Regions from separate parts of the Homo sapiens genome. Here all the other regions are reported to be linked to region 1. Evidence: microRNA targets listed by miRTarBase, many of them from high-throughput screens and not tested one by one. Region 1 holds a microRNA gene; each other region holds the end of a gene's coding sequence.

Region 1 (4,094 bases):
TAGCTCACATACTTATCATTTTTTTGTGGTGAGAACACACACAGGTAGTCCTAAAATGTACTCTCAGCGATTTTCAAGAATACAATAGCTTGTCATGAACTACCTAGGCACCATGTTGTACAGTAGATCTCTTGACCTTATTCAGCCTGTCTAACTGGAATTTTATATCTTTTGACCCCTATCTCCCCAGTCCCCTAGCCCCCACTCTGTTGCTTACCATGCTACTCCCACTTCTATGAGTTTGGCTTTTTTAGATTTCACATATAAGCGAGACCATGCGGCATTTGTTATGTTTGTTTAGTTTGTTTTCATCAAGATGCGAATAAGGTCCATCCACACATGGCTGTTGGTTGATATGACTCTTAAGTCTCCTAAATTCTATAGGTTCTTCTCCAGTTTTCTTTCCTTGCAATTTACTTGTTGAAGAAACTGAGTCATTAGTCCCAGAGAGTTTTGTGCAATTAGGAGTTTGGGGATTGCATCCCTGTGATATAATTTACTATGTTTTTCTGTTTCAGGTATTTCTTATAAATTGAGAGTTGAATTTGGAGGCTTAACTGTTTCTGGTTTGATTTTTTTTTCATAAAAATATTTCGTAGGTGGTTTGAAATATTTATTTTTTATTTTTAGGCAGAGTCCTGCTCTGTCGCCCAGGCTGGAGTGCAGTGGTGTGATCTCCAGCTCACTGCAACCTCCGCCTCCCGGGCTCAAGTGATTCTCCTGCCTCAGCTTCCTGAGTAGCTGAGATTACAGGTACCCACCACCATGCCCAGCTAATTTTTGTATTTTTAGTAGAGATGGGGTTTCGCCATGTTGGCCAGGCTGGTCTTGAACTCCTGACCTCAGGTGATCCGCCCACCTTGGCCTCCCAAAGTGCTAGGATTACAGGCATGAGCCACCGTGCCCGGCCTAGGTTTAAAATATTTAGAACCTCCATTGTAACCTTCCAGAACTCCTCTGGCTGGGGCTTCCAGGTTGAGAACTTCAGAGCTAGCCTCAATCTCAGCCTCTCATTCACTGAAGTAGCAGCCAAGCCCGGGAGGATAAGTCATGCTGAGCAAAATCTCTGCAGCCTGCAAAATCCCTTCACAGACTACAGACCCAGATGGAGAAAGCTGAGGAGGGCTTTAGAAAAAGCAGCTTCCCTCTGCTGCACTGAGTCGCCCTGGGGATTTGCAGGGGAGGTTCCCCGACCTGGTTCGCTTTCTGCTTGTTAGCACGCAGGGTGGCTTTGTGCCACAGCCCAGCCTGACTCATCCTCTCTGCTCTTTATTTCTTTCCTCCTCACACCCTCGCTGAGCTGCTAATTGCTCTCCTCCACCCTCCCCCTTGGTTGGAATCCTGAGGCCCTGACCTAGAGACACCCCATCACAAGTGTTTTCCAGCTAGCTCCAAAACCTCATCTCTGCTTTATTTGAAAATCAGTCAACATTAAACAGAGACTTGCTCTGATTTAAGGAGACTTTTAAAACTGAAGTAATTTTCCTTCTCTCCCTTCGCTTCTTCGTTTTCTTTTTTATTGTTTGTTTTCCATTTTTTAAGACTTCTTGGCAACTGGTTTTGGGAGAAAGAGGCACTTTTGCAAAGGACCAGAAGGCATGTCCAGTGTTCAAACCCAAGGCGATGAAACCCCAAAAGGTGTTTTCCTTTCCACATCTCTGTCTCTTCCACTCCTAGGCACACACCAGAAGGGCTGCCCAATTTACACATTGGCAGGCTTATGATTCATCCAACAAATGGTTTAAGCACCTTCATGGTTCCCAGGGCCCTTCTTAGTACTGGAGATTCAACCAAGCTTGGCATCACCAAGTTCCTGCACACACATTGCTGGGGAAGGCAGATTAAAAAAAAAAAAAGTCCAGGAACAGTGGCTCATGCCTGTAATCCCATCGTTTTGGGAGGCTGAGGCAGGAAGATCACTTGAGCCCAGGAGTTTGAGACCAGGCTGGGCAACACATTGAGACCCCATCTCTGCAAAACATTTTTTTAAAAAATTAGCTGGACATTGTGGCTCATGCCAGTAGTCCTAGCTACTTGGGAGGCTGAGGCAGGAGGATCACTGGAGCCCGGGAGGTTGAGGCTGCAGTGAGCTATGATCAAGTCACTGCATTCCAGCTTGGGTGACAGAAGGAGACCCCATGTCTAAAGAAAAACAAAGAAGGAAAAAAAATACACAATTTAAGTTCAATCACAGTGTGTTAGAGGGAAAAACAATCTGTGTGGTAGGAAAGTGGGTGACTGGGCAGGAAAGTGCAATGAAGGTGGGAGAGAGGAGGGCAGAAGAAACCTGTCTCAGGTGAGGGCCTTGGAGCTAAAGCCTTAGCTATGAAGAAGATCTGAGGGGACGAGCTCCAGGCAGAGGGAGCGAGGAGCTATGCAAAGGCCCTGCGGAGAGATTCACTGGGAGAACTTAAAGGGCAGAGAGCAGGCCAACGTTGATGGAGAGATGAGCGGGGACGTCTATCGGCCACAGTGAGGAAACAGGACTCTGTTCTAAGGCAGTGATTCCAGTGGGGGCGATTTTGCCCCTCAAAGGACATTTGGCAATGTTGGGAGACATTTTTGGTTGCCACCCATTTGGGGGCAGTTGCTCCTGGCATCTAGTGGGAAGGGGCCAGGGATGCTGCCTATGTCCTGCAAAGCACAGGACAGCCCCTACCACAGAGAACTCATCAGTCCCAGATATTGATAGTGCTGAGGTTGAGAAACGCTGGTCTAAGAGTGGTGGGAGGCCATCAGAGGGTCTGAAGCAAGGGAAGGATGTCGTGTGTGTTAAAAAAGGAGAGTGCAGTGTGGGGAGGGAGAGTGGAGGTAAGGAGATGGGGAAGATGTTGCACTTGTCTCAGTGAGAGATGCTTCTAGATCCAGGAGGCAGACCTCAAGGATGGAGAGAAGGCAGATCCTTTGAGATTGTTCCTATTCAAGTAAGCTATGGTCAAACCTGTTTTGGAAATGTTGTACACTGTACCAAGATAAGCAGTCTAGCGTGAATCCCAGAGCAAGGCTATTTAAGTTCAGATCTTGGCTTTGCCTCTTGTTAGCTGTGTGATCTTGGGCAGGATTCTCAACCTCTCTGTGCCCCAGTTTTTCCATTTCTAAAGTGGAATAATAGGGTCCATCTCAGAGGGCTAATGTGAGGAGTAAATTAGTTAATATACATATAAATAAGCTAATAGATGACTAGAACACTGCGAATACTCAATAAGCATTATCTGGTATTAGTACATACTCCTTTTGGGAGTATCACTAGTTATATCCACAAATTAAAGTCTCTGAGAAGACCTGTATCAAAACTGTTGCTGGACTTGCTTAGCCTGCATTCACTAAACTTATATTTTCATGACACGTCCCCCACCCCCACCAACTCCCTGAACACTCTGAAAACCAGGGATCCTCAGAAAACATTTATTTATTTATTTATTGAGATGGAGTGTTGCTCTGTCCCCCAGGCTGGAGTGCAGTGGCGTGATCTCGTCTCACTGTAACCTCCATCTCCGGGGTTCAAGCAATACTCGTACCTGAGCCTCCCGAGTAGCTGGGAATCCAGACGTGCACCACCACACCTGGCTAATTTTTGTATTTTTAGTAGAGACAGGGTTTCACCATGTTGGCCAGGCTGGTCTTGAACTTCTGGCCTCAGGTGATCCACCCAGCTCACCCTCCCAAAGTGCTGGGATTACAGGCATGAGCCACTGCACCCAGCCCCTCAGAAAACATTTTAAAATCATCTTTATTGAGATCTAATTCACGCATCATAAAATTCATTCTTTTAAAGTATACAATTCAATGGGTTTTGGTGTATTGAAAAAGTTGTGCAATCATCCTCACAATCTAATTTTGGAACATTTTGTCTCCCCCAAAAGAAACTCTGTACTTATTAGTAGTCTCACCTCATTCTCCCTTCCCCCAGCCCTTGGAAGCCACTCATCTACTTTCTGTCTATGAATATGTCTGTTCCGGACATTTCACATAAATGGAGTCATACAGTATGTGGCCTTTTGTGATTGACTTCTCTCACTGAGTGTAGTGTTTTCAAGATACTGCCACGCAGCATAGATCTGTGTTTCATTCCTTGTTATGGTCAAATGCTATTC
Region 2 (4,094 bases), not on the chromosome of region 1:
GTGATCTCAGCTCACTGCAACCTCTGCCTCCCAGGTTAAAGCGATTCTCCTGCCTGAGCCCCCCAGCCTCCTGAGTAGCTGGGATTACAGGCGCCTGCCACCACGTCTGGCTAATTTTTGTATTTTTTAGTAGAGACGGGGTTTTACCGTGTTGTCAAGGCTGGTCTCAAATTCCTGACCTCAGGTGATCTATCTGCTTCGCCCCCCCAAAGTGCTGGGATTACAGGTGTGAGCCACCGCATCCAGCCAAGAATGGCCTCTTTAATGTCTGTGAGCTCCCCAAGGGCAGAGACACCCTCTAGTGCCTGGCACCGCCTCCAGGGCTGAGGAGGTGCTCACCAAGTCTGTGATGCAGGAATGAAGCCGTATCCCAAGTAGGGGGCTGCGTCTGCCCAGTTTACCAGTGCGTTCTTGTCACCCAGCACGGGCTGGCCAGCGAGTATCGACACAGGGTTTGCTGAGCGGAGGAATGAGCCCTGCTTTGTGGTGGAGGGGAGCAGGTGGCAGGAAAGCCGGACCCCACTGCCCCTCCCTGACCCTCTCTGCTCTTTTATTGCAGGCAGAGTGTCTCTGGCACAGTTTGCCTTGGCCTTCGTGACGGACACGTGCGTGGCGGGTGCGCTGCTGTGCGGGGCTGGGCTGCTCTTCCATGGGATGCTGCTGCTGCGGGGCCAGACCACATGGGAGTGGGCTCGGGGCCAGCACTCCTATGACCTGGGTCCCTGCCACAACCTGCAGGCAGCCCTGGGGCCCCGCTGGGCCCTCGTCTGGCTCTGGCCCTTCCTGGCCTCCCCATTGCCTGGGGATGGGATCACCTTCCAGACCACAGCAGATGTGGGACACACAGCCTCCTGACTCCAGGAAGAGCCAGAGCTGTGCAGGGAGGAAGGGGTGAGAGGGGGGCCCCCACACCTAGACTCAGTAAGGAAGTCGGGTTGGACCTTAACATCTGCATTGGACAACTCCACCCCTTCCTTGGCCTTGCCCCTGCCCGCCTACACTCCTACGTGTCCAGGGCTTGGGCCGTGACTTAGGCAGAGGAGTGCAGAGGAGGGTCTGGCAGGGGCTGCTCAGGCCGCCTAGCTGCCCCTTTGCCAGGTTAATAAAGCACTGACTTGTTTCTCAGCCTCCCTCCATCTTTGCATAGTTTCTGGCCCCTCACTTTGTTGCTGGGGCTGTTTCTGGGACCCTCTGTAGGGCCTGGAAACTGCAGGATGCCTGAGGGTCTCAGGGGCTGGGGCTCTACCTCCCCTGGCCTGGGTGAGTTGGGGGTGGGGCACCAGCACGCCAAGGCAGTGTCCTACTGATCCAGGCTATGAGAATCCAAACATTCTTTCCCAGGTTTGGCATTTTATAGTTAGAAGCATTTCTGCAACAGCAGTTTCATGGAACCTCTCTTAGCTAACCTGGTCCATGGGGCAGCAGTTACGCTCTAAGAATCCATGTGGTAAGATCATGGTGCGGCAAATGGAGGCAGGGTCCAACCCAGGTCTTTGTGCTTTTGCCTTTACCCTTGCACAGCTGGAGGAAATGAGTAGGAAAGAAATCAAGGTAAAGAAATGCGCTGGGGCTGTTTGGGCATCTGTGGAGGGTGGTGCTGACAGGGCTAGGCCTGCACCTCTCTGGCCTCCTCAAGAGCTGCTTGTTAAATGTTTCCGTGTAAATAGAATGAATAGAGACCGCCATTTCCACATGGCAGGCCTAAACACATGTGTTCGTCTCAGTTTTCTCTTAGGATCTCTCTAAGATGATAGTAAAGAAAATCAAAAATAATACAAAGGGAAAGAAAACAGGAGGGAAGACAGTAGAACACAGAGCCTGACCACATTTTCTTTTTTCTCTCTGTTGCCGGGGCTGGAGTGCAGTGGCACGATCTCGGTTCACTGTAACCTCCACCTCCCGGGTTCAAGTGATTCGGCCTCCCGAGTTGCTGGGATTACAGACACCCGCCACTATGCCCGGCTGATTTTTTTTTTTTTCTTTTTTGAGACGGAGTTTTGCTCTTGTTGCTCAGGCAGGAGTGCAATGGCGTGATCTCGGCTCACTGCAACCTCCGCCTCCTGGGTTCAAGCGATTCTCCTGCCTCAGCCTCCCGAGTAGCTGGGATTACAGGTGCCCGCCACCATTCCTGGCTAATTTTTGTATTTTTAGTAGAGACGGGGGTTTCACCATGTTGGCCAGGCAGGTCTCAAACTCGTGACCTTGTGATCCGCCCGCCTTGGCCTCCCGAAGTGCTGGAATTACAGGTGTGAGCCATTGCGCCTGGCCATGCCCAGCTAATTTTTTTGTATTTTTAGTATAGACAGGGTTTCACCATGTTGGCCAGGCTGAACTTGAATTCCTGGCACCTGCCTCCACCTCCGTCTCCCAAAGTGCTAGGATTACAGGCGTGAGCTACCGTGCCTGGCTGACAATTTTTTATTATTTTATTTTATTTTATTTTATTTTATTTTATTTGAGACAGACTCTTGTTCTGTTGCCAGGCTGGAGTGCAGTGGCACGATCTCGGCTCACTGCAAGCTCCGCCTTCTGGGTTCACGCCATTCTCCTGCCTCAGCCTCTCAAGTAGCTGGGACTACAGGTGCCTGCCACCACGCCAAGCTAATTTTTTGTATTTTTAGTAGAGACGAGGTTTCACCGTGTTAGCCAGGATGGTCTCGATCTCCTGACCTTGTGATCCACCTGCCTCGGCCTCCCAAAGTGCTGGGATTACAGGTGTGAGCCACCACTCCTGGCCGGCCAGGATGGTCTTGATCTACTGACCTCGTGATCTGCCCGCCTTGGCCTCCCAAAGTGCTGGGATTACAGGTGTGAGCCACCGTGCCCGGCCGCCTGGCTGACATTTTCAAAGATGGAAAGTGGATGGAGAATTAAGAGCTGAAATTATGTGTTCCCAAAAGGTGGGGCCAAAAGGCAAGTGGAATTACCTGCCAGAGCCCCGGAGGGGCTCAGGAACTCCACCAGGACCATGGAGGGTGAGGTGAGGCTTCGGCCAACAATGGGGACCGATGGAAAGTCTATGTAAGGATCAGTGGGGTGCCGCTCCCCCACATCCCACCCACACCCCACCCACATCATGCAGCCAGCAGCTACACCTCTGGGTGGGGTGGTGTGACGTGAGGATTATTTGAAGGATAAATGGAACCAGAGAAGCTTCGGGTCTTAGGCGTACTGGGGAGGGGTGGGTGAGAGGCTAGACCAAAAAATGGGGTTAAGTGAAAGTCCATAGATACTGCTGGGGGGCCTCCCATGAAAGAACATGCTTGACCCCCAAGAACCTTCAGAGAAACCCACCCTCTGACAGGCTCTGCCCATGCCCACAAAGATCTGAGCTGCTTGGCTGGTTGTTTTTGTAACAGGCATGCTCTGTTGCTATTTTTTAATGACAGGAGGAACTTGGTGTACCTGGCACTTTGGGCTGCACAGACGCATTAGCAGACTCACCTTGTCCTGTTTCATCCCTCGCCCTCCACAATTTCTTATTTTCTTTCTTTCTCTTTTTATTTTTTGAGACAGAGTTTCACTCTTGTTACCCAGGCTGGAGTGCAATGATGCGATCTTGGTTCACCGAAACCTCCGCCTCCCGGGTTCAAGCGATTCTCCTGCTGCAGCCTCTCGGTAGCTGGGATTACAGGCATGTGCCACCATGCCCGGCTAATTGTTTTTGTATTTTTAGTAGAGACGGGGTTTCTCCATGTTGGTCAGGCTGGTCTGGAACTCCTGACCTCAGGTGATCCACCTGCCTCGGCCTCCCAAAGTGCCGGGATTACAGGTATGAGCCACTGCGCCCAGCCCACAATATCTTATTTTCATGTTTTTTTGTGTGTTTTGTTTTATTTTTCGAGATGGAGTCTCTCTGTTGCCCAAGCTGGAGTGCAATGGCGCGATCTTGGCTCACTTCCTGGGTTCAAGCGATTCTCCTGCCTTAGCCTCCCAAGTAACTGGGATTGCAGGCACCCACCATCATGCCCTGCTAAATTTTGTACTTTTGTAGAGATGGAGTTTCACCATGTTGGTCAGGCTGGTCTTGAACTGCTGACCTCAGGTGATCTGCCCACCTTGGCCTCCCAAAGTGCTGGGATTACAGGTGTGAG
Region 3 (4,094 bases), not on the chromosome of region 1:
CTAGGCAACACAGCAAGACCCTGTCTCAAAAATAATAATAAATGTTAGCATCTCACTCAGTTCTGTGTGATCCAGCTCCTGCCAACCCATCTGATGAGCTCCTGGTTCACTCTCCTTGCTTCCTGCTTTCACCTCCTGTGGCCCCTGTCCCGTTCTTCCCATGTGCCAAGCTCATTCCAGCCCCCAGACCTGTCCGCTACTTTTCTCCTCCAGATCTTAGGTTAGGTAACACTCCAGCCCCCTCTGAGATCACCTACACACCTTCTGTTCACTTCTGTCATCCTATTGCTAAATTACTTTGTCTCAAGGTTCGTAATCTCTGTGAGGGAGTCCTCTCTGCTGCTTTTCCCAAGGCCTGACGCACACCGGGCACCCAGTTAACATCTTTAATATATTGGGCTTTCGTGCTACCTGAGGGCTTCTAGAAAGCTCTCTACATCCAAGTGAGAGGCTGGCTCTCCAGGAGGTACCTGTGCTCTCAGCACAAATGGAGCCCCTCTGGGAACAGGAACCTGCTTCAGCCCTTTAGCATACACAGGCCTGCCACATGCTGGGGACAGGGCCACCTGAGTCCCTTGCCTGGTCCCATGTGTGGTGCCAGCTCCCTCCCCTGATGATTGTTCTCTCTCTTTCCCAGGACCGAGATCTCACTCAGCAGACAGCAGCAGCCCGGGAGCCTGAGCTCAGGAGGAACTCTTACCTGGAAATTGGGAACTGTATGGAGACTCCAAACTGACTTCTTTCAAAAAACAAAAACAAAAAATTTTTTTAGCTTTGACAAACACACAAAAGTGGTAATAAAGAGAGCCCTCCTTGTCAACCCAAAATGTGAGCCCCCTGTGGCAAAACCACCCCCTACCCCATTAACAAATCAACAGACAAAATTCTCCGAGTCCTTTGCCTCTTTTGATAACATGTTGTTCTGTTTTGTAAAGTGTGTGTGCTTGGGGTTCCGAGGTGTGGGATTGAGTTCTCTGCTTTGTTTTTTTTTAAGATATTGTATGTAAATGTAAAAAGTTATTTAAATATATATTTTAAAGAACCCTAACTGCCAACTTTTGCTGAAAAAGAAAAAAAAATCACTGCTGCATTAAATGAACCACATCATGTGTAGATACTGTTGTCTCCCTGAAGGGAGCTCAGGCCTTTGAAAAGCTCAGGGCTTCACCTGCCTTAGAAAATGAACCAGAAACTTGAAGTAAAGCTAGTTGATAGGGGTACAGGCTCTGAGGAGCAGTGCAAAACTGCCTCTTTCTTTCTCGTGGCAAATCCCAATGTACACGATTTCAGGTCTCAGACGCCATGCCTCTCCAGCCCACGCCTTTAGGCAGGTGATGGCAGCAGCTAGGAATAGGGTGTACATGATCCACAGCCCTGCGGAGCCAGGTCAAGCCGCTGCTATGAAAGCTCCAGGGTGATGGGGACGATTCTGCCCAGTGTCCTCAGTCTGTCCCCTCAGGTCATGGTCCCAAGTGAAATGACAGAGTTCACAGCCCTGGTCTTGGCTGAGGTCCAGGTCATAGTAAGGGCATGTTCTTGGGGCCCTCGACCTGAACTCTGACCCTCCGGGCAGGGAAGAGGAGGTTGTCCCCTTTGGTTGTCCTGGCTTTGGAGTCCTTTGCAAAAATATTTTGGGCCCCCTGCCACTGGCTGCAGAAATGGCTCGACGGGGTGTGTGGGGACAGACACCCAGAAGGAATGTACTTTTGTGGCCTTGGTGTCCGATGGGGCTGGGGGAGAGTGCTCTCCACTGACCCAGCAGCACACCCATGTGCAGTGCGCCTGCATCTGTGTGGGGGCAGCCACACCCCTTGGCTGCTGCTTCCTTGGGCTGCCTTTCTGGGGGCATGTGACTGGACCTACGAGGTCTGCACTGAGCTCCATTTGAATGATACCTTTCCTATCCCATTTCCCCCACGGAAGCACCGCTTCAGGGTTATTCAGTCCTCTGCCTCATGGCTGAAATTGCTCATCTCGTCTGCAGATGTCTACTATCCTGTCTACCTAATGCACTATTATGTATTGATTCTCCATGAGACAGAGAGAGAGAGAGACTATCAGATAGTTTACACCCAAAGGGTAGGTTTTTGTATATTTTTCCAGCCTTTTTTATTAAGGGGAAGGGGAGAGTTTAAAAACCCAAACCGTTGTGGTTTTAAGGTGTTTCATTTTTAAAAGGGAGAGAGAATCTATTTAAAGCTATTTCAGATCAGGGATTGTCATCCTTTTTTGTCCAATGTATTCCTTGTTCTTTAAAAAAATTTTTTTTAGAGGAAACTAATATTAGTCTTTGTGTTCACTAACTCTTCTGGTCACTTGTATTTATTTATTCATTCATTCATCAGATATTTGTTGCCATCTGAAAGAACTGGCCCAGTGGGTCTGAAAGCTCGCTTGAGAATAGGAAACTTGAGACCTGGCCCCCTGTGGGTAGGAGAACAAGGACCACCTGGGTTCTCCAGTCTTGAACGAGAATCTCACTCTTATCAGAATGTTTTTCTTAACCTCAGCGTATGATGAGGAAATTTACTTATCTCTAGCTAGGATTTGACAAATTCCAACATCAAATGATCAAAACATTTGCCACTGAGGCTTCACTGGTGAGATCCGTTCTCCGTCCTCGGGTGCAGTCCCTTGGGGGCTGCTCCTCGGACTGCGCCCCGCACACCTGTTATCGAGGGTGTGAGAAGCGCCTAAGCTGGTGACATGTGATCTGGGACGCCTTCATTTCTCGGGCCAGGAGTAGCAGCTGCTAAGGACAGCAGCTTGCATTGCGTGGTTTTAGGGAAGCAGGGTCTGGCTTTTAATATGAACTGCAAAAAGCAGCTTCTCACTGATATTTTTTTGTTGTTGTTTCTGGGGGGTTTTTTTGTTTTGTTTTTAATGCCTTTGAGTGCATATTTTCTTCCTCGTCTGAAACCGAACTCCCAAAGTGGCTTTCTTTAGCCCTGGCTGGAAAACCACCTCTCAATAGCCTTAAGCAATAAATAGATGAGTAGAGAATGTGGCTTCAACTGGGCTTATTAAAGTAAGTGTGTCTAGTTTTCACTTGAACAAGTGATAGCTGCAGATGGCGAAAGAAACCCATTTAATTTTTGTAGCTTACAGGTGGTAGAAACAAAAATGCAATTTTAAAACCTTAAATACCAAATACCAACCATTGCCTTTTTTTTTTTTGAGATGGAATTTTGCTCTTGTCACCCAGGCTGGAGTGCAATGGCGCGATCTCACCTCACTGCAACCTCTGCCTCCCGGGTCCAAGTGATTCTCCTGCCTCAGCCTCCCAAGTAGCTGGGATTACAGGCATGCGCCACCACACCCAGCTAATTTTGTATTTTTGGTAGAGACAGGGTATCTCCATGTTGGTCAGGCTGGTCTTGGATTCCCGACCTCAGGTGATCCGCCCACCTCGGCCTCCCAAAGTGCTGGGATTACAGGCGTGAGCCACCATGCCTGCCCAGCAATACCAACCATTGTCTTTTAAATTCGTGTTGGCTTCTCAGACAGGGAGATCACTGGAATAAAATAACCGATGGTCTTATTTTGTCACACGTAAATCAAAAGAAATGTCCTCTTTGAAGTTGTAAGACTCCACCAATGACAGACACCCTTTTCGGTGGACTCTGAGTGGTGTGTAGTGGTTTTATAGCCATGGAAACTAGGAGTATCTCACTTTCCACTGAGAACCCCTGCCCCCAATCCCTCTAAGTTGGGGTGTGGCAGTTGGGCAGGGTCAAGTGACCCAGCCCTGGCTGTAGGACAGCCATATACAGTGAAGAGTTCTAGAACCAGCTAAAAATGGAAGTTTGGGTGTTTACCAACAAGGTACCTCTTTATGGATGCAGCCCCAGTAAGCTGGCTTTAACTCTCAGCTCCTTCCCTGTCTCCTCCTAATCCAAGCCCTTTTATAAAATAAAGCCCCTTCTGTCCCACTGCTCACATACTTATGTGCTGCTAGTCTCTACTCGAAGTTCGTGCAGGACTAATGCTTTTAAAATGAGGTCTAAAAAATAATTACTAGTCGAGACTATTATTCTTTAAACAGAACTGCCTTTTTCTACTCTTTATGTAAACTCTTTCTATTGTGTTGGTCT
Region 4 (4,000 bases), not on the chromosome of region 1:
TGAGTGCATCAAAGTCAGCCCATACCAAAAGGAACACAATATTGTTTTTTTTTTTTTTGAGATGGAGTCTCGCTCTTGTCCCCCAGGCTGCAGTGCAATGGCACGATTTTGGCTCACTGCAACCTCCACCTCCCAGGTTCAAGCAATTCTTCTGCCTCAGCCTCCCGAGTAGCTGGGATTACAGGTGCCCGCCACCACGCCCAGCTAGTTTTTCTATTTTTAGTAGACACAGGGTTTCACCATGTTGGCCAGGCTGGTCTTGAATTCCTGACCTCAGGTGATCTGCCAGCCTCAGCCTCCCAAAGTGCTGGGATTACAGGCATGAGCCACTGTGCCCAGCCAGAACACAATATTCTTAACAAATGAAAGGGAAATTAGCGGTACATCATCATTAGACTATATTTTCAGCAACTTTTCTATTACAGGTATGCCCTGCTTTAAGAACACCCAATAACTGAGTTTGTTTAAATGCATTATAGAAAAATCTGGGCATTATGAATCAGATTTGATACACAAGCAACCTTTTAGCTTACTCCCCTGCCAGCCCACCGCCCCAGAAAATAGCCAAGGGGTCTAAATCTATATTTTGCTCCAGATCCAATGTTTTACTTTTGAAAAGGAAGATTCAGTGATTGAACTCACACAAGGCAATGGTCTGGGGCCTGCTAAAAGTCATGCTGTGGTTTCCATTGCATTTGAGACAACCAGACAAACAAATACAACTTTTAGAGGAAACTTCAAGTTTTCTCTTATTCACATCTCAGCCAGGAGTGGGATCTTACACTTAGAATTGCTTAGACCTGTGCTGTCCAATATGACAGCCACTAGCCGTATGTAGAGTATATTCACAATCCCGATCAATTTCCATCAGACCTCCATTTTTTCCAACTCTCTCATCATGAGTGGGGTTAGGGTTATTGTTTTCGGTTACTGAATATATTATTTTTCTATGTAAAGCTAACAGACATATATGGTGATCAAATCTGTAACCACAACCTCAGTAGTACTATTTTCTGTTATTGATTCAGATTTTATCTGCAAGACTGGCTGCAAGTAAGTTCAGAGAGACAGCATATTATTTGAGACACCTAACATTTCGTTAAAAAAATACTCAGTATCGGCCGGGCGCAGTGACTCACGCCTGTAATCCCAGTACTTTGGGAGGCCGAGGCGGGCGGATCACCTGAGGCCAGGAGCTTGAGAACAGCCTGATCAACGTGGAGAAACCCTGTCTCTACTAAAAATACAAAATTAGCTGGGCGTGGTGGCACATACCTGTAATCCCAGCTACTCGGGAGGCTGAGGCAGGAGAATTGCTTGAACCCGGGAGGTGGAGGTTGGGATGAGCCGAGATCACGCCATTGCACTCCAACCTGGGCAACAAGAGCGAAACTCCGTCTCAAAAAAAAAAAATATGTATAAAGATACAATCAAGAGCATCAATTTGGCTTAAAAGGCAATGTTACCTTAGTACTCATTAGCAAAACACACAATGCAATGCATTCTGACATGTTTATGATGATACTCTGATGTACTAATGTAAGTGAAGATGATAAATGCAATAGAAAAATTTTAAATATACTGGTGTTGGGGGCAAGGTGACAGATAAGCTGTGTCACACTCTGAGAGATACTGTTTATTACTGTACTCACATTGAACATGATTTGATTGTAGTAATTGCATCTGAGACCACATATTAGGGGGCTTCATAAAGGGGTTTTGTTATTCTTCAAAACTAATAACGCTTCATCTTAACCAAAACCCTCAATGAGAATAATCAGAAATAAAGCAAAGTTTTACACACTACCCTGAGGATCAATAACTTCAAGCCCAAGGCCATCTTAAGGAAATTTTCTTTCTGGTTTGCTAAAGCTGTGGGAGACCATTACCATCATGAGGCCAGTTACAAGAAATATTGATCTCTAAAATGTCATGCTCTAACACTCTATGCGGACTCACAGCATGTGCTGGCCAGATTGCAGAACAAGTCAGCTCTAAGTATTTCACACATTTATCAGTACAGGAGCTATTGCATTTACCACTGGATTAAGTTTCTGAGTAGCCATTGAAATTTGGGAAAAGGTATGGTAATGCAAAGTAGATAGGTTAGGACCTCCACACTGAAAACAGATATGGTACAGCTGTGAACATGGGAAAATTCCCTGAACTTGTACAAGGAAACAAAATCCAGAACAGGCTGGGCGCAGGGACTCATGCCTGTAATCTCAGAACTTTGGGAGGCCGAGGCGGGTGATCACCTGAGGTCAGGAGTTCGAGACCAGCCTGGCCAACATGGCAAAACCCCATCTCTACTAAAAATACAAAAAATTAGCCAGGTGTGGTGGTGGGCACCTGTAATCCCAGCTACTTGGAAGGCTGAGGCAAGGGAACTGCTTGAAACCAGGAGGCAGAGGTTGCAGTGAGCCGAGATTGTGCCATTGCACTCCAGTCTGGGCGACAGAGCAAAACTCTGTGTCAAAAAAACAAAACAAAACAAAACAAAATACAGAACAGATTCAACTCAGGTAAGTGAAACTGCCAGATGGCCAAAACAAGTTCTTCAAATTTCCACAGAACTCATTGACCCAGCAGGACTACATTTTTATCCAAATTGCAGCTGGGAGCTTGATTAACTGAGAAACAACACAATTAAATGACATGACATTCTTCATAGGCACCAATCCAATGTCAGTATCTGCAGGCTGAAGTACAGACAGTTACACTGAAATTGCGTATGCTCTGAGGAATGACACTAAATTCGCTTCCAGGAAAATTACTCAATTTTGTAAGTAATTTTCAGTTTTTTTTCTCAGGGATATTTTTCAACTTTCACTTTAATTTTCTTTAGTTGCTTAGTTGTACATTTTGAGAAGGCAAATCCATTGGAACTTGGGGAGGCTTAGAACATAAATCAGTATTAGAAGTAAAGGGAACACACAGCTAAAAGTTTTACTTTAATCACAAATTCACAACTAGAGATATCATTTGCATATCTTAGAACGCTAAAGACCTGTTAAAATTTTTTAACCAATCAGCAAAAATATGTGCCCCACAGATTTCTAATGTTCATAATTTAGAATTTATCACATATAATATTTATTAATAGTTTATTTGCAAAATTATTATTCTTAAAACACTTCTTTCCAACACATTTACAATGTTCATGTGTTTTAAAGAAAAAAACCACCCTCATTTAAAAATGTACTACTGACTTTAATGTGTGGTTATACCAGTGCCACCAAATTAGAAAAGAAAAAGAAACATACAGCTGTATTGGATATGTAGTTACTACTACAAATAATGACAACACACGTCCTATACAAAGATCATATTCACGCTTTTCTACCACTTCTCAGTCATTGTCAGAACCATTTGGAGGTAAGAAAACCAATGCATCATTGAAAATATGCCCAAATGCCCTAAGGCGGTATACCCCATACATCATCACATGCATCTGATTTGGAGTCAGTCCATTAAAAGTAACAGCCATATCTGAACAACAGCCTTCTACTACCTGGTTGGGGTGATAAGTCATTGCCTCTTTAATAGAAAGCCCAACAGATTTGGTATTAAATACATCTTTTCCATCAGCATCTTCTGCATTTTCTGCAAATACTCCAGCATATTTCAGGCAAACTGCTAGCTGTTTATCTTCAGATATCTTCCAAATCATCCCTCCCTGTTCAGGACACTTTTCTGGGATATTGAGAAGGCTGTTAAGTCTTTTCATTGATTCTACACTTAAGACAATTCCTCCTTCCATACCCACATATTCAAGGTCTCCAGATTTTATAGTGTGGCCTAGATAGAAAGGCTGTGATGGATCCTTTTTTAACAAAAAATACTTTAGGTTTTCAATGATAGCAAACGTAGTGGGGCGTGCAAGGAAGAACCAGTTGTATTGGTCTCTATACTTATCAAAGGCGTATTTGTAAGCTTTTCTCATCATTAACCACATGTCATTTGTGTCCATATTAATTGACTCAAACACTTTAACATT
Region 5 (4,094 bases), not on the chromosome of region 1:
GAAGGAGGCATGGGGTTCTAGGCAAGGGAGACAGTCTCTTAGGCCTGGAGCAAGGGGCCAGGGGCCTGGGCAGGCCACAGAGCCCCACAGTGTCCTCGCTACCCTATTAATGGGCCAGGAATCTGGAAGCCAGCCACCACATGTCCTCATGCCCAGGGTCTTCCGGCAGGTGGAGCTGAAGAGCCAAGAGGCTCCGAGTCTGCAGCAGCAGCCAGACCAGTAGCTGGAGCCCCAGTCCCACAAGGAGCTTGGATGTGCGGACAAGCAGGGTGGTGAGTAGAGCCCTCAGGCGGGGTGGGCAGGCAGGAGCAGGGGAGGCTCGCACTGTGCCCAGATTCCCACCCCCCTCCCTCTCTCTGAAGATCTTAGTGGGCTGAGCCTCACTGATAGCATGGAGGCTGCACCGGGAGAGGACAGGGAGGGTTCTCCCCCATGACAACCCCACTGCACAGCAGATCCAGCAGCTGCTTCCTCTAATGCAGGACTCCCCAGGAGCACCCAGGCTTGAGTGGAGAAGCTGTTGGTACAGGAGAGGCGGCAGGAGGAGCAGGAGAGGCTGCATGCCATTCTTTTCGGGCTGCGGAGAACAGGGAGCTAAACATCACCATCATCTAAGAGCGGGTCAAGGAATTGAAAAAAAAAAACAAAACATTTAAGGGGTTAATATCCTACACAATTCATTTACTTCATTTGAATGTTAGAGCCACTTATGTTTATTTGTGTTTCTAATTTATAGTTTAAATTTATTTGTGTTTCTAATTTATAGTTTAAATTTATTTGTGTTTCTAATTTATAGTTTAAATTTATTTGTGTTTCTAATTTATAATTTAAATTTATTTGTAAAAAGTTAAATGAGAGTGGGTGTTTCTCTCATGTTCACTCTGGCATCTTTTAGCATTTTTTTAATTTGATAATTATAGGACGTTAGCATGCATATCGAGTTTGCCCTTATGTGGTGGGAGTTCAAACACACAAAGACCCACTGTATGCACACAACTGTTCTTGCTGGTTTGGGATAGGCTGCCATGCTTTTTGAATGTTAGTACAGCCTGTATATTCATTACGGAATTCAGATAAAATTTCCTTATGTTCTGCTGTTATGTTTGATCGAATCCTAATCACAGTGAGCTCTTCATTAGCTCAATATGCAGTTTGCCCTCAAGTGCGCGGTCTATTACTTTGTAATATGCCACTGTGAGTACTGACATTTACAGTTGTTTAAAGGTGGAGCACTGGAAACAGCCTTTCCCCCTTTTTCTGTGTATTGGGGATGGGAGTAATAACATTTTGGGGAGGTTTTTAAATCTCCCAGAAGAGGAAAGTGGCCTGCTTTGGCAGGTGTGTGCAGGATAGAATATGTTTCATTTGTTCCGGTGCCAAGAATGAGCGCTGTACTACGGTAGTTCCCTTAGGATTTGTATGTGCTCTGGGCTCATGAAGATACTGCCTCATGAGCTGTGGCAGTTGTACTCTTTTTTGATGACCTGAAAAGGGATTATTTCTGAGGAATGAAAGGCTCCCATCATGACTGTGGATGTGGAAAACCTTTTCTAGCTGAGAGCATTTATATCTACAATACATTTTAAAGTCAGCGTTCATGTTCCCTGTTTTAATCACATGACTACATGTCCCAGTACACAAAAGGGCACTGGTTGGCGTTCTCCTTAATGTATTTAGTAAAGATCAGAAGAAATCCTTTAAGAGTTTAAATGCCCCTGGAACAGGCATATACAGGCTCTAGTCAAGAATGAATTCGAGTGAAGGAAAGCTGTGTGACACCTGGCATTCCTCTGTGTTCATGGAGCTTATTTGAGGCTAGAAGATGGATTTTACCATCTAGACCTCTCTGGCTAATAGCTAGTCTTCAACCATCTGACATAGGAATTTACTTCTTTTCCTTGAATGGAGAACACTTTAAAAATAATAACAAACATTATTATAAACTAATATATGTGAGAGTACTTAGTTGAAACAAAAAGGAGTTTTAGTAGACAGTATTATACTACATTTGAAAATCAAGGAGCAGTTTATGCAACGTAAAATGTTTACAAACTGCAGCGCAATCTACTGTTTGTGACTGTCAAAGTGTCATGAGGAAAGTGTCTATACAATCACAGAGTTATATTTCCTCACAAAGTTCTTTACGAAGAGTGAAATATGTTTTTATACCTCTCAGTTTCAGTTAGAGGCATATTTTGTGTAATATTTATGGCTTAAAATGGACTAAAGGTCCTGTTCTTGCCTTGTCTGAACTTGCCGCTTTTGCATTCTTTGAGTTCAGTTTAAAGACACTTACTTTAACTCCATTTTAAACCCTCGGGCTAGAAATCGTACCACTGTTAATTAGCCACGTTATTTGGTCTAACAGTTTTTGTTTATCATTCTGAAACTGAGCTTATCTAATACATTGATAAATTATTTCAAAGGTATTTTTATAGTTCAAATCGCTTCACTTTTACCCTGACACGTATAAATGAATAGGAATGACCTTCAGATAGCGTTTAGCAACTGTAACCAATCTGACAATAATGTGTTCATCAGGTACCTGTGGATTAAATCACATACTGGCATATTTAAGATGAATGTCAGTCTGAAAAATAAATATACTATATTAATTCAAATACGACTCTTTGTGTAGGTATTTTGTCATATGTTTAAGAAAAAGCTAAAGAGAATGGAAATCCTATGACAATAACTCAAGTCTTTCTTCAAAGTGCATGCAGTCTTTTGCAGTACCTCATTCAGCCAAGTATTTGTTCTCTACCTCATTCAGTATAAGGCAGCCTTTAATTTGCTTAGAAGGCAACATTAGAAGGTTAGAGTTCAGCAGGAACATAGAATTTTAAAATGTGACTTCAACTGAATAAATTTGAATTTCTCTAGGGAGTAAAGAATCAAAACACCTATTTAAAGACTGCAAAATATGATAATTATTTTTAAAGTAATTGATTAAACCTGGTAGGTTTTCCCAAAATGAAAAACAATCAGTTCTAAAACCAAAGCTGATTTTTAGAAAATGTGAAAATGTAAATCAACCCTATCCATAATAGATTCTCTAAAACTTTATCTTACAGTCACTTTCAAATAACTATTCAAAAATGTAACTGCTATATTAACGTCTTAAAATAATTTAAAACATTTTAAAATATGAATACTGTAGTTTAAAACAAAGAATCTAGGGGAAGGAAAAGTAGACAAAGAAATGCCAATTCCAGTCCAAAGCTGTATTTGCCAAGTTTTCTTAGAATGACTTTTACCGATTTATGAATTCTTATACACAGAATGCATAATGGAAATACTGATTTTTGTCTAAAGTGGCATTATTGACTGCTTCTGTGATGCTACTGTAATGTAATACATTATTAAATTGTTTCAAGGTGCTGTTTTGCCTAAAAATTTTGTGTGTCTTGAAAACTATAGTATTGGGTATTGAGACTCTGCAAATTCTCGGCATGCTTGGCATGAGGTAATCGGTTTTTATTCTTACAAAATTGTAACTATGTAAGTGTGTTTATTAAAAGAACACAAACTAAAAAAGTTAACAGAAATTAAAGTTGTGGGATGAAAAAGTTACAGGATAAAAAAATACTGTGGAAAAGTGGCAAAAAAAAGTTGTGGAAAAAAAGTAAAAAAAAAGTTTTATGAAAAGTTATTTTAAAAAGTTATGAAAAATTAGTTACAGGATTTAAAAAAAGTCATGGGATAAAAATAAAAATAAATAAAAGCAGGCCCCTGTCAGCATAAGCCTGGAGAAGTGGGTCTGGAGTCTTCACCCCCACCATGTCCCTACAACCCCTCCCCAGTCAGCCCTTTACCATTAGGGTAGCAAGACAAGACCCTTGTCTAATGGAGGGAGACAAACAGACCCTTTACCACCTTGACCAAGGCTGAGTCCTTACATTTCTGGATGATGATGTTTGTTATTTAAGAGCCAGAGGTTGGTGGAGTTGGTTTGTTTGGAGGAGGTCTGACGGCCTTCTTACTCTCACCAAAGCAACTTTTCCCTCAGGGGGGCTCCCATCTTCTTACTCAGAGAGGCAGCTGAGGCGGGACAGTGGAGTTAACTGTAGACCAGGCCAGGGCACAGGCTGCTG
Region 6 (4,094 bases), not on the chromosome of region 1:
CCAGAATGCCACTGATAAAGTAATACAAAGAAACAAAAAAACTAGATACTTTATTAGTACATTCTTTTAAAAACAATCTTGTTAGCCTGGTGAGGTGGCTCATGCCTGTAATCCCAGCACTTTGGGAGGCCAAGGCAGGCAGATCACCTGAGGTCGGGAGTTCGAGTCAAGCGTGACCAAGATGGAGAAACCCCACCTCTACAAAAAATACAAAATTAGCTGGGCCTCGTGGTTCATGCCTGCAATCCCAGCTACTCAGGAGACTGAGGCGGGAGAATCGCTTGAACCCGGGCGGCAAAGGTTGCGGTGAGCCAAGATCATGCTATTGCACTCCAGTCTGGGCAACAAGAGCGAAACTCCATCTCAAAACAAAAACAAAAACAAAACCAATCTTGTCATTACCTAGGAATAATAAGCATATTTACAGTCACCTATTTTCAGGGATCTTCGGGACCTGTTAAAACACTGACTGCCTTGACATTACATTTCTGCCACAGCTGTGCAAAGCACACCCCTTCAAAGTGTCATTTTCAGTTGCTACTAGACAATGAGAAATTAGTTGTAGAAGTATTTTGTAAATCTGTTTTGAATCAGAATACAGATTCTCTGTAACTAGAAATAGTAAAGGCACATGAGTTATAGCTTAGTCTATAAATTATCTTTATTCTTTGACATCTTACAGATCTCTACACAGACATCTGTGACCCTTCAGACGTTCAGGATGCCCCAGAGAAGGGAACATAGAGCTTCCTGTCTGCATTACATAAACTTTTCCTAATAAATGCATATGGTTAAGTTATAAGGAAGGTATAGTTGTAGACTAAACCAAATATTTTTTGTTTTATTTTTTTTTGAGACAAAGTCTTGCTCTATGGCCCAGGCTAGAACACAGTGGTATGATCTCAGCTCACTACAACCTCCACCTCCTGGATTCAAGTGATTCTCCTGCCTCAGCCTCCTCAGCAGCTGGGATTACAGGCATGTACCACCACCTGCTGCCAATTTTTTGTATTTTTAGTAGAGACGGGGTTTCACCATGTTGGCAAGACTGGTCTTGAACTCCTGACCTCAAGTGATCTGCCCACCTCAGTCTCCCAAAGTGCTAGGATTACAGGCATAAGCCACGGTGCCCGGCCTAAACCAAATAATTTGGATATGAGTGCTACCTAATTCATTAATGCAATTAAAAGTTTTCTATCTAAATAAGTTGATGATGCTTATAGTAATATACTGAAGGACCTTAGCAAAGAAATGGGAAATCGGCAGAGTGCGGTGGCTCACACCTATAGTCCCAGCACTTTGGGAGGCCAAGGTGGGCAGATCACAAGGTCAGGAGTTCAACACCAGCCTGGCCAACATGGTGAAACTCCGTCTCTACTAAAGATACAAAAAATTAGCCAGGCATGGTGGCTCACGTCTGTAATCCCAGTTACTCGGGAGGCTGAGGCGGGAGAATCGTTTGAACCAGGGAGGCAGAGGTTGCAGTGAGCTGAGATCACACCATTGCACTCCAGCCTGAGTGACAGGGCAAGACTCCATCTAAAAAAAAAAAAAAGAAACGGGAAATCAAATCCTTAAGTCAACTAGTTAAATTTTACTGTATGCAGCCGGGCACGCTGGCCCATGCCTGTAATCCCAGCACTTCAGGAGGCCAAGGCAGGTGGATCACCTGAGGTCAGGAGTTCGAGACCAGCCTGGCCAACATGGTGAAACCCCATACAGAAAAATTAGCTAGGCATGGTGGTGGGCGCCTGTAATCCCAGCTACTTGGGAGGCTGAGGCAGGAGAATCGCTTGAATCCGGGAGGCGGAGGTTGCAGTGAGCCGAGATCACGCCTTTGCACTCCAGCCTGGGCAACAAGAGCAAAATTCCATCTCAAAAAAAAATTTTTTTTACTGTATGCAAGACCTTTAATATATATTGCTCCAACTGGCCAGTAGAAATAACTTAAAAGTAACCGCATCATACACCCAGTAAATCTTTCTCTTAGAAATGAACAGAGAACAATTCTTTAGAATGCTTCTCAGGGAGAAAATGAGAAGTTTTGAGAAGCAGTTTTGTTTGGGTCAAGGGGTACTTTCAAATTACACTTATGAGTCAGTATCTATAAAAAGTTTCAGAAGTACCTACAATTTAGCCCTCTACATCCAAGCAGTAGCTTTGCAGTATGCTCTTACTTAGGTTTGCCCAAGTACAAATAAATTTTACAAAGCTTGATAATCTAATAAAATTCCCTCTTCCTAAAGCCAAACAGATAATTTTGGTGACAACAATCTAGCAAAAAAGGAAGAATTTTTTTTTCTTTTTTTTTTTTTTTTTTTGAGACAGGTTCTCATGCTGTCACCCAGGCCGGTGTGCAGTGGCACAATCTTGGCTCACTGCAGCCTTGACCTCCTGGGCTCAAGTGATCCTGCAACCTCAGCCTCCCAAGCAGATGGGACCACAGGTACAAGCCACAACGCCCGGCTAATTTTTATATATTTTTTGGTAGAGACGGAGTCTCATCACGTTGCCCAGGCTAGTCTCGAACTCCTGAGTTCAAGCCATCTTCCCGTCTCACCTCGGCCTCTCAAAGTGCTGGGATTACAGGTGTGAGCCACCATGCCCAGCCTAAAAAAGGGAGAAATTTCTAGGTGCATACTGCCTGCTGGACTGTATAGCCCATTACAACATCTGGTCACTAAGAACCTCCTATTAATTCCTTACTTGCATTCTCAGGATCAAGACAAAAAATATGAGCAAGCAAAAACTTATCATCAAGCAAAAAGGTATCTATCTATTAAAATAGCTAGATATTTCCCAAACACCCCTCCTAGGATATCTGCTGCCAATAAAAAGTTTGGGGCTAGTGAAAACTCTTGGCATTAAATAAAAGTAGGAATCTATTTCATTGGCTTTCTCTGTGGCTCAAACTATGGCCATGGAAAATTATGCTCTGGATATAATTGTGAATATAGAGGTCTTTAAACTGTGTCATTGACACTATTCCTATATCACATAAAGTTTTATGTTACAATTTATACTGCACTGGAGAAGTAGCTAAAGGGACTATTTGCCAGGAAGCTTCTAGTAAATAATTTCTACAAATTTGTAAAATAGGAGTTGTCTACACTTAAACTGGAGAATTCTACAGCATAAATGGCATTTCTATTATTAGTAAACCTGGCAAATCTGTGTGAGCTCTTTATTAATTGGGATATATTCCATATCCATTCTCACTCATATTTTTAGAAAAATCATTCTTGAGTTTATTTTTTTTCTTTAAGAGACAGGATCTCATTCTGTTGCCCAGAGTGGAGTGCAGTGGCATGATCGTAGCTTACTACAACCTCAAATTCCTGGGCTCAAGTGATCCTTCTGCCTCAGCCTTCCAAAGTGCTGGGATTATAGGCATGAGGCCACTGCGCCCAGCCTCGTTAGTCATTTATCTACCAAATACATGGAAAACTCACAGAATCAGAGGGTCTTATCACCAAATCTATGTTTGCTTTGCAAAAGGTCAGGTCCTGCATTTTCAAAATGTTCCTTGTGCTCTGTTATGCTTTATATTTCATAGCACAGCAACGCCCCCTTCACAACGACTGGTGATCATGTTACCAATTTCTGTCCATGTATCTGAATGAGGGTTATAAACTTCAACTGAGTCCAAGGTACCTGGAGCCAAAAAATCATGGCTGGAAGATCGACCTCCAGAAACATACAGAAGACCATTGACTGCCACAACACACATGCCTGCTCTAGGCACTTTCATTGAGGCAACTTCAACCCACTTTTCCTGGTTAAGAGAGAAAAAAAAAATATGTTAGCAGTGTTATGAAATGATAGTAAAGAAATCCACTGAGAAATTCGATATCCCAGTTCTTTTTACATGTTTAAATGTAAAACTATCTAGTCAGGTAAGCATACAGATTTTTTTTTCTTTTTTTTGCTTTGTTTTTTCCTTGGAGACAGGGTCTCGCTCTGTCACCCAGGCTGGAATGCACAGCAACGATCTCGGCTCAGCGCAGCCTCAACCTCCCAGACTCAAGAGCTCCTCTTGCCTCAGCCTCCTGAGTAGGTAGGACTACAGGTGTACACCACCACACCTAGCTAAT
Region 7 (4,000 bases), not on the chromosome of region 1:
CCACCTCAGCCTCCCGAGTAGCTGGGCCTAGAGGTGCACACCACCATGCCTGGCTAATTTTTAATTTTTTTTGTAGAGATGGAGCCTTTCTATGTTGCCAAGCCTAGCCTCGAACTCCTGGCCTCCCAAAATGTGGGGAATACAGGCGTGAGCCACTGCACCCCGGGTCATTCCTCTTTTACTTCCTTGCTGTACCCCAACTATCCTTCCCCCTCGGTGCCCTTAAAACCTTTGCATTGGGTAAGTACATTTTTTAAAGAGACTCTAGAATTGGGCGCCAGTCTCCAATTAAAATTGTGAAGCTTTATGGTCTGCGTATCAAAAGGAACCTCAGTTCCTTAAAAATCCTGTCATTTTGCCTTTAGGACTTAACGGTAATAGAATGGCATTCCTCACTGCCTCCGAACCACTCAAGCTGCTGCCCATGCACTCTCTTCTGCATGGCTCCTGGACTAAGCAGCCTCCCTTTGATTAAGCAGGTAAAAACCAAATAAAGTTGTCAGACTATATGCCCTGCCCAGTGTGCAGTCTAGACCCAGCCTTTGTCTGCCAAGAGCCTGGAAATGTTGACCTCCGTTATTAAGCCTGGTCAGTCTAAGACTAATTCTTATTACCGAAGTACCATTAGGTAAATGTGCTAGCTATAGATTTAAGTGACATAAAAGATCTTAAAGAATTCTCCAAGGGATCTGTGGGGGGTTTATGTATTTATTCATTAAAAGATCTGTAAACAACATTTTATACAAATCTTGATTCTTTTACAAAAATATCCAGAATTCCTAACACTTTACAGAAAACACAACAGACCTAAGGAAATGAAGCAGCTTCAGGCTGCGAGGATGAAGACACCATTGCTGAAGCAAAGGTCTCCTCCTAGAGGGATAGCCAGGATCCATCACAGTAAACCCTTTTACCCCCATTTTATAAACATCCAATTATTAACTGTTCCTGCTGGGTTGGAGTGTAAGAAGAGACCAAATGGAGAGATGTCTAGTAGAAGCCCCACTGGGGGTAACCTGCTTAACATTAAAAAAAAGACAGGCTCAGTTCTATTCCCTGGACCCACATCTGTAGGAATTATATTATACAGCACCAGTCTTAAATGGTGTTCTGCTTCAGATTCATGCATACCTGAATGGGTTGTAATGACAATACTGTACAAGTCAATAAACTGTATCACAATACAACTTACACAGTTTTGTAAGGTTGAATAAATACTTTCTGTGCCAGTTAAAACCATCAGCAGAAACTGAAGAAAACAAACTGACATTTGCTATAACATTAATCAATGAAAAGTGCACCATCTGAACTTGAATTTGCCCATGAGTTTGAAAACACACACACACACACACACACACACACACAGGCCGGGTGCAGTGACTCATGCCTGTAATCCCAGCACTTTGGGAGGCCAAGGTGGGTGGATCACCTGAGGTCAGGAGTTCGAGACCAGCCTGGCCAACATGGTGAAACCCCCGTCTCCACTAAAAGTACAAAATTAGCCAGGTGTGGTGGCGGGTGCCTATAATTCCAGCTACTCAGGAGGCTGAGGCAGGAGAATTGCTTGAAGCCGGGAGGCGGAGGTTGCAGTGAGCCGAGATCACACCATTGCACTCCAGCCTGGGCAAAAAGAGCGAAACTCCATCTCAAAAAAAAAAAAAAAAAACCGAAACAAAACACACACACACACACATACACACACAAAAAAAACACTGCACCATCACTGAAAACTTTCTCTTTCCAATCACTACTACTACTACTTTAGATATTAAAGGTCTGGATGACTAAGTGGTATATGTTCAAGGAATGTTCATATTTTGAGTCTAATTTAATTAGAGCAAAAATTTCAACATTTCTAGGGGAATAAAAAGAGTCTCATCTAGGCACCTATAAAGTTCCTTATCCTCAGAGCTGAAAAGTGGCTCTGGTACACTTAATAGAAAATTTTTATTAATAAAAGAAATAGCTATATAATCCTACTGAGATGAAATTTCCATCTGTAGGACTAACCAACTTTTTCTGTGTCCATAAAAGTCTTGGCTTCAGTTCTGTGTTGTACAACTTTGGGCAACGTATTTAACTTCTTTGAATTTGTTTTTTTCTTTTTTCTTTTCCTTTTTTCTTTTTTTTGAGATGGAGTCTCGCTCTGTCACCCTGGCTGGAATGCAGTGGCGCGATCTCGGCTCACTGCAACCTCTGCCTCCTGGGCTCAAGCGATTCTCATGGCTCAGCCTCCCGAGCAGCCAGGATTACAGGCACCTGCCACCACACCCAGCTAATTTTTTGTGTGTATTTTTAGTAGAGACAGAGTTTCACCATGTTGCCAGGCTGGTCTCGAACTCCTGACCTCAAATGATCCACTCGCCTTGGACTCCCATAGTGCTGGGATTACAGACGTGAGCCATAGCACCCAGCCTCAGTTTATTAGTAAAATGGAGATGCAAATATCTATCTCATAAGGTTGATTTAAGGATTGGTTGAGATGATATGCATACATATACCACAGTGCATGGCACATGGTGGACACTAAAAAATAAAGGTGGCTCCCATGCCCTTGAAAGGACATTTTCATATTAGCTATAATTTCACAAAGTTTAAATTTATTTACTTATTTTTAAAATGTTTTTGTAGAGATGGGATCTTGCTATGTTGCCCAGGCTAGTCTCAAACTCCCACCCTCAAACTCCTGCCTTAGCCTCCCAAAGTGGTGGAGATTACAGGTGTGAGCCACTGCATCCAGCCTCCACAAAGTTTAATGTTGACATGTGAGGCACAAGCAAACTACTCAAATGCCACATAATTTGGAGGAGGAGTTGCAAGATGTCTAATTTTATAAGGTACTTAATAACAGTACCTTATAATATTACAAGTAGGGCTTCCTCCTAAGTGAGATTCCCCTAGATATAATATAAGGCAAAACAATGGAGATATGTGATGAGTCTATTCCTTAGCCCAGGTCAAACAGCCCATGGGTTTAAAGGGGCCATGATAGTTCAGTGATGAGAATTATGTGTATAAGGCTAGTGTTCTCCATTTCCATCATGTCTCTCTACTACCTTAAACTCAGCATTTCTCTCATTATTCTCATCTTTGAGCTATTTTTTAAATGTAACAACAACAAGGCTTTTCCTTGTGAAACACAACTACTTTCACAGACAAAGCACAAAACAGAGAATGAGCCCAAGAATCACATAGAAAAGGCTGCTATAAAAAAAAAATGGAGACAGAGTAAAGATGGCATGGTGCCAGACCATTCCCAACAATTCTCCAGTGATTACTACAGCAGCAACAGGAGAATCCTCCTCTAACAGCCTGACTCGCTCTTTAACCTTTTAAAATTTCAAGAATTTTGTAGAATACTTCATGGGATCCTGACCCTTAGAAAAATATTTTCTTTGGCACTTTCTGTTGTATATTCAGGATGGAGACAATCAGAGATTTCATTTCTTTTGCAGAAATTTCATTTTGCTTCCTAAAGGGAAAGAAAAGTACAGTGAATGCTCAATTCATTTTTATTTATTGTACATTATTTGAGGTAAGGGATTAACAGGTCAGTCATTCAGAACAGCCCAAGAGTTAAGCTGACATCTCAAACTCAGTTGATGTGTTTAACCCCCAAAACAAAAACAAAAATGAACCCCAAACCCCATATGTCTAGTTAATTGTAGCGGCAGAAAAGAACTCAGACATCATGTAATCCAGTGGTTTTCAACCTTGACTATAGGTTAAAATCACCTGGCTTCTCCCCAGAGATTTCCTGGAGCCCAGGGGAAAATTTTTTTTAAGTTCTCTGGAAATTATAAAATGTAGTCAGAGCTGGGAACCACTGATCTAATCTAACCCCATTGTATAAAGATGAAATAACAGCCTAAGGCCTAATTTGTCCATGGTCTGTCAGCTAGTGAAGGACAGGGCCTAATTAGGGGGCATATATTTCAAAGACAAAATATAAATATCGTAGCATATAGGTTATTCATTATTTTAGGCTAGCCACACCCCT

The links. Region 1 holds the annotated microRNA hsa-miR-4325 (UUGCACUUGUCUCAGUGA, at 2,832-2,849, shown strand). A microRNA usually pairs through its seed, bases 2 to 8, with sites in the 3' UTR of a target mRNA and lowers its output. Matches are read on the target gene's strand: a 7mer-m8 pairs with bases 2 to 8, a 7mer-A1 pairs with bases 2 to 7 and ends in A, and an 8mer does both.
Region 2: the mRNA of ZDHHC24 is a reported target of hsa-miR-4325. Seed matches in the 3' UTR shown: 7mer-A1 at 2,020-2,026, 7mer-A1 at 3,543-3,549 and 7mer-A1 at 3,873-3,879.
Region 3: the mRNA of ZNRF3 is a reported target of hsa-miR-4325. Seed matches in the 3' UTR shown: 7mer-A1 at 1,236-1,242 and 7mer-A1 at 3,211-3,217.
Region 4: miRTarBase lists C1GALT1C1 as a target of hsa-miR-4325. The part of its 3' UTR that is shown has no 7-base or 8-base seed match.
Region 5: the mRNA of GOLGA6L4 is a reported target of hsa-miR-4325. Seed matches in the 3' UTR shown: 7mer-m8 at 2,712-2,718.
Region 6: the mRNA of IPP is a reported target of hsa-miR-4325. The part of its 3' UTR that is shown has no 7-base or 8-base seed match.
Region 7: miRTarBase lists DENND2C as a target of hsa-miR-4325. Seed matches in the 3' UTR shown: 7mer-A1 at 1,609-1,615.

Annotation. Positions count from the first base shown.
Region 1 is chr20:57,320,319-57,324,412 of GRCh38, reverse strand. It overlaps MIR4325 (microRNA 4325), which reads left to right and starts at 2,822; the gene lies at 2,822-2,911. All of the region lies in intron 2 of LOC105372687 (a long non-coding RNA gene), which reads left to right.
Region 2 is chr11:66,536,290-66,540,383 of GRCh38, reverse strand. ZDHHC24 (zDHHC palmitoyltransferase 24) reads left to right here. Exons shown (of 3, transcript NM_207340.3): 3 at 560-4,094. The coding sequence ends at 855. Among named protein-coding and RNA genes, the nearest start is that of ZDHHC24, 7.7 kb to the left of the region's middle. RefSeq lists an enhancer at 14-784.
Region 3 is chr22:29,052,942-29,057,035 of GRCh38, forward strand. ZNRF3 (zinc and ring finger 3) reads left to right here. Exons shown (of 9, transcript NM_001206998.2): 9 at 638-4,094. The coding sequence ends at 681. Among named protein-coding and RNA genes, the nearest start is that of C22orf31, 6.8 kb to the right of the region's middle. RefSeq lists a silencer at 2,260-2,554.
Region 4 is chrX:120,622,858-120,626,857 of GRCh38, forward strand. It overlaps C1GALT1C1 (C1GALT1 specific chaperone 1), which reads right to left. Exons shown (of 2, transcript NM_001011551.3): 2 at 2,817-4,000. The coding sequence ends at 3,353. Among named protein-coding and RNA genes, the nearest start is that of C1GALT1C1, 5.2 kb to the right of the region's middle.
Region 5 is chr15:84,241,978-84,246,071 of GRCh38, forward strand. It overlaps GOLGA6L4 (golgin A6 family like 4), which reads left to right. Exons shown (of 9, transcript NM_001267536.3): 8 at 170-272; 9 at 483-3,381. The coding sequence ends at 615. Among named protein-coding and RNA genes, the nearest start is that of GOLGA6L4, 8.3 kb to the left of the region's middle.
Region 6 is chr1:45,696,416-45,700,509 of GRCh38, forward strand. IPP (intracisternal A particle-promoted polypeptide) reads right to left here. Exons shown (of 9, transcript NM_005897.3): 9 at 2,296-3,775. The coding sequence ends at 3,551. Among named protein-coding and RNA genes, the nearest start is that of TMEM69, 10 kb to the left of the region's middle.
Region 7 is chr1:114,582,160-114,586,159 of GRCh38, forward strand. DENND2C (DENN domain containing 2C) reads right to left here. Exons shown (of 21, transcript NM_001256404.2): 21 at 691-3,472. The coding sequence ends at 3,441. It overlaps LOC105378914 (a long non-coding RNA gene), which reads left to right. Exons shown (of 3, transcript XR_947719.4): 1 at 1-240; 2 at 366-479. Among named protein-coding and RNA genes, the nearest start is that of BCAS2, 2.5 kb to the left of the region's middle.